Linked DNA regions of Homo sapiens: region 2 is linked to region 1. Evidence: fine-mapped expression QTL. Tissue or cell type: spinal cord. Region 1 holds a variant in brackets; the other region holds the start of a gene. All regions are shown on one strand. Distances are between the middles of the regions.

Region 1 (2,686 bases):
CTGAAACACAAACATCTGATAAATCTTTTTCCAACAAGTCTGTGGAAAGTAACATCAAGCAAGCAGATGATCTCCAAATTTAAGATTTCCAAATTACAATAAATACCATTTGGATTTCCTGCTTTTTTAAAATCCAGGCAACTTTATTTCCAAAGGCTTGCCTCCTCAGTGTCAGATATTCTGTCAAAAAGTTACTTAAGATTGCCGGGCACGGTGGCTCACGCCTGTAACCCCAGAACTTTGGGAGGCTGAGGCGGGCGGATCACGAGGTCAGGAGATCGAGACCATCCTGGCTAACACGGTGAAACCCCGTCTTAATAAAAATACAAAAAAATTAGCTGGGCATGGTGGCGGGTGCCTGTAGTCCCAGCTACTCTGGAGGCTGAGGCAGGAGAATGGCGTGAACCCGCGAGGCGGAGCTTACAGGGAGGCGGAGCTTACAGGGAGGCGGAGCTTACAGGGAGGCGGAGCTTACAGGGAGCCGAGATCGCACCCCTGCACTCCAGCCTGGGTGACAGAGCAAGCCTCCGTCTCAAAAAAAAAAAAAAAAAGTTACTTAAGATTAAAATCGACTTAAGGGAAACAACCAAATGCAATAAATGGTCCTTTATTAGGCAGTGGTTTAGACAAAGCTTCTCTATTACAGTCTGGGGCTAAATGGGGAAATCTGGACATGTTACAGTAATAGATTATATTAAAACTAACCAAGCTAGCTGACAGAAAAAAAAAAGGTCCTCAGAGCTGGGTGCGGTGGCTCACGCCTGTAATCCCAGCACTTTGGGAGGCCGAGGCAGGTGGATCACCTGAGGTCAGGAGTTCAAGACCAGCCTGACAAACATGGTGAAAACCCGTCTCTACTAAAAATACAAAAAATTAGCTGGGCGTGGTGGCGGGAGCCTGTAATCCCAGCTACTCAGGAGGCTGAGGCAGGAGAATCGCTTGAACCTGGGAGGCATAGGTTGCAGTGAGATCCCACCATTGCACTCCAGCCTGGGCAACATGAGCAAAACTTCATCTCAAAAAAAAAAAAAAAAGAAAAAATCCTTACAGATGGTATATTCATGTATCTCATTTTTATTAAAACACACATGCACATGCATAGAAAATTATCTGAAAA[G/C]TAATACAGTAGTCATCTATGGATGGTAGCAATTTGTTTTTATATTTGTTTCCTTGTATTTTCTAATTTTCAAAAACGTACATGTAACACTACTTGTGTAATAACTTTTTAACAGCTAAAGTCAAAAATTAATATCGGTCACGTGCCTACTATACGTAAGACGCAATGGAAATCTGCTTTTACTCTCACCTAGTCCTCCAAGTTTGTTTTTTAGGTCATCTTTCTTCTCCAACCCCCTAGGCTAAGCAACAAAACACATTTCCTCAAACTCCAATAGGTTTTCTCCCTCTAGTTTCACCCAGACACACATACTTTTCATTGCTGTCCCTGTATAGCTACTCTTTCAACCTGGATAACTAATATAAGCACAGCACTGGTTTACAGGCAGAAAACCAGTCAAGTGAAGCGGGGAGAACTAAGAAGGTGGGTTTTTTTTTTTTCTTTTAAATGAACACATATCTACCTTTGTTAAAGCTAAAATATATGTGCAGCCAACCCAACTTTTACTAGTAAGCAGTCTGTACTCTTAAAGGTGGAATCAAGTTCAAGTTCTACCTTACTTTCAGACACTCCCATTATCTCTGCTAAATAGGGACCAAAGGAAATAGCAGGAAACCTAACACTTAAACAGCTTAAAATTATATTTATTCTACACATTAAAATGACAATGCCAAGTAAAAGACACTTATAGAAGTATCCAAACTTTGAAGAAGACAGCAAAATACCAAGCAGAAAGTCATCTGATTTACAAGTGACCGTAAGCAGGCTGGGCGTGGTGGCTCACGCCTGTAATCCCAGCACTTTGAGAGGCCGGGGCGGGCGGATCACGAGGTCAGGAGTTCGAGACCAGCCTGGCTAATATGGTGAAACCCCGTCTCTACTAAAAATACAAAAAAAAATTAGCCAGCCGTGGTGGCACGCGCCTGTAGTCCCAGCTACTCAGGGGGCTGAGGCAGGAGAATCGCTTGAACCCAGGAGGCGGAGGTTGCAGTGAGCTAAGATCATGCCACTGCACTCCAGCCTGGGTGACAGAGCGAAAGACTCTGTCTCAAGGAACAAAAAAAAAAAAAAAAAAAAGTGACCGTAAGTAAATGAGACTAAGATCTTTGGGATAAAAGGACAATAAAAATTCTGGGTTGCATGTACTTGCTAAGAGTGTTACTCACAAAACATCCCATTTAACTCCCCCCACGTATGTTGCCCACCTACAACAAATTATTACATCAAAAGTGTTGACTCAATGCAAGTATGGACATATTGAATGCTTCCTTTCTCCACCTTTCTCCACCTGTGATTAAATCTTGATCAGTTGTGATATGATCAAAATGCAACTTACTATAAAATCTGTAACCACTGGGGAGTCACTACCTAAATCAGCTTTCAGGGAAATAATTTCCCTCTATCTTAAAACTAGTTCATTAGCTTTGAAAGGTATTAGCCTTGAGCTACAAGTAGCAAGAGAGCTAGCCTTCATGGCGGGTATTATAAAAAGGAAAAATAGTTCACCTAATAAAAAACCTTTGGGAAAGAACCCCCTAAGCATTCCCATTAATGGAAACCTCAGATCCT
Region 2 (2,686 bases), 280 kb before region 1:
TATCAAAATAAAAATGCAACTATCCTTTGACAAAAATAAGTCTAGTTCTAGGAGTTACTATACCTGCACATATTCAAAATGACATAAGCGTTGAGGATATTTGTGGTAGCATTGTTCATAATAACAAAATGTTGGAAGCAACTTAAATACCCATCAGTAGAGGACTGGTAAAAAAAATTATGCTATACCATACAATGAAACACTGTATAACTGCTAAAATGAATGAGGCAGCTCTGAATTAACATCTATGCTAAAATATGTTGTGAAGTGAAAAAAAGCAAGGTGCATTTATTTAATAAAAAGGAAGCTTATTTGCATATATGCTTGTGAGGCATACACTATCTCAGGAAACATCCAAGAAACGAGTGGTAACAGTGGTTGCTTCCCTGAAGGGAATTATCTGCCTGCAGATATGGGAAGGAGGAAGGCTTCCTTTCAACTTCATCACTTTTTAAAAACCTATCTGCATTTTACACTATGACAGACATGCATTACTATTTTAAGGTAACTGAACAGTTTAAAATTATTTTTTGGCCGGGCGCGGTGGCTCACACCTGTAATCCCAGCACTTTGGGAGGCCAAGGCAGGCGGATCACAAGGTCAGGAGATCGAGACCATCCTGGCGAACATGGTGAAACCCCGTCTCTACTAAAAATACAAAAATTAGCTGGGCGTGGTGGCACGCGCCTGTAGTTCCAGCTACTCGGGAGGTTGAGGCAGAAGAATCGCTTGAACCCGGAGGCGGAGGTTGCAGTGAGCAGAGATCGCTCCACTGCACTCCAGCCTGGCAACAGAGCAAGACTCCGTCTCAAAAAAATATATATATTTTAAGTCTAATTTAAGGCCGGTTCTCTTAAAAAGAGTATGGTGGCTGCCTCTTCTCCCCTTTATATTATATATGCTGAACGTTTCCGAAAAGTCATAATGCATATTATCAAGATGATTACTGTCCTGCAATGCAATTTTAAGTTTGGCTGTTTAGACTTTCTTAATACAATATTTATTGTTACTCTGTATGTTTCTACTTTTAACCTCTATTCTTCAAATTGCTCTTAAAACAAGTTAAAAAAATAAATTTTCAATTGTTCTGATTGCTTTATCTTTACCTGGAAAGACCTCTAAAAGGAAACGAAGGAAGAGAAAGGAGACCGAACACTGGAGCATTAAGAACCCAGGAAAAGAAAAAATGTCCGCAAAGTTTAAAAGAAATAAGTTATGGTAAAGGTGTTTTCTCAACCAAATGATCTGCAAGGAAAATTTCCAAATTCCTCTGCTCAACAAAAATTTCTTTAGTTTTTCTACAATAATGATTTCTTTTCAGTTTCCATACCTCCCCGAGGCCCCGCCCATTTATCAGGGAAACGGAGAAATGAGGAAGTCAGCCTGAAAGGGGGAGTACGCTCACTTAGCAGGAGACAGCTGAAAAGTAAAATACTTTTCAGTATTTTCCAGAGATCAAGCGAAAAACAAGACCTGGCGACGACGAAAGGAATGTCAGAGAGAAGAGGGAACAACTAGAGAACACAGACCACGAAGCTTTTCTCAAACACTGGCTTCTTCTTTTCAGCCGAGGTCACAGGAGAGGGCTCGGCTTTAGGCTCCACCCAGCTGCCTACACGTTCTGGGGGAGGGGCTTAGAACACTGAAGCTAAGACGCTTGATTTTTCTAGGAAAGAAAGATGTTGAAGGGCCACACATGAACAACTGAAGACTTCTAATCGTTCCACTAAAGTATGAGTGGTTTCCTAGAAGAAGGAAGGGTGATTCAGAAATATAAATACTGTGCAATAATTTGAAAATCAACTGTAAATCATTAAGATTACAATATAACATGTACAGAAATATTTCATTTAATACAACTAAAGGCTAACTGGCCATATAAGCAAAAACTATAAATTATATTATACCAGCTATAAACTATATTATACTATATTCCTGGGGAGGCATGTTCATAGCAGTTAACAATTGTGAAATTAGAACCATACTGCCTGGGTTCAAATCTCAACTCAGGCACTTGCCAGCTGTGTGATCTGTTCTGATCCTTGCTTAAACTTCTAACTTTGTATTCTTCCTGGTACTTTGCACATAGTACTGGGTGCTCAATGTCAATTGATCAACCAAATGAATGTTAGTGAAATGTCACTAATTTTCAATCTATACAACTTTAGGGGTTTTCTTTATTGCAGAAAAGTCATATAAAAACATTAAATGGTGGCTTGACAAGAGTTACACACAAACTACATACATTTCTGCTTGTCATTCCTTGTATTCAATTTATACTAATAGATACTTTTCATGAACATCCACTGAATTCTTTCATTCCTTCCATCAGATATTTAATCAACTCTGTGTTCCAGGTATTATGATGGAGCCTGGAGACAAACTACAAAACATGACAGATAATGCAGGAAGGAGCATGAAGTAAGTACTAAGGTGGCACCTACCTTGGGAGAAGTGGATAAAGAACTCAGGAGATGTGAAAAGGAGGAACATGAGAGGGGATCCTTTAAGGATAAGTGAAATCATCACAATTTTGTTTCCTAATGATGAAACTTATGTTGAAAATACTCCATTAAAATTCAACTACTAAAATCTTGTAACCACAAACACAAACGCAAAAACAAAAAACTATCATGATCATAATTATGATCATGTAAGCTAAAAAATTCGAGTGCAGACATAAAAG

The links. PIP is the estimated chance that this variant, and not a neighbour inherited with it, causes the effect.
Region 2: C4orf33 starts here. The variant in region 1 is fine-mapped to the expression of C4orf33 in spinal cord (GTEx, PIP above 0.99). The same link has a PIP of 0.9 or more in anterior cingulate cortex, cerebral cortex, prefrontal cortex, putamen, sun-exposed skin and testis.

Annotation. Positions count from the first base shown.
Region 1 is chr4:128,812,916-128,815,601 of GRCh38, reverse strand. The region is part of intron 1 of JADE1 (jade family PHD finger 1); the gene reads right to left. Among named protein-coding and RNA genes, the nearest start is that of JADE1, 4.6 kb to the right of the region's middle. RefSeq lists enhancers at 1,483-2,064, 2,065-2,646. The variant G/C (reference allele first, on the strand shown) is at 1,118.
Region 2 is chr4:129,095,053-129,097,738 of GRCh38, reverse strand. C4orf33 (chromosome 4 open reading frame 33) reads right to left here and starts at 1,587. Exons shown (of 6, transcript NM_001099783.2): 1 at 1,530-1,587.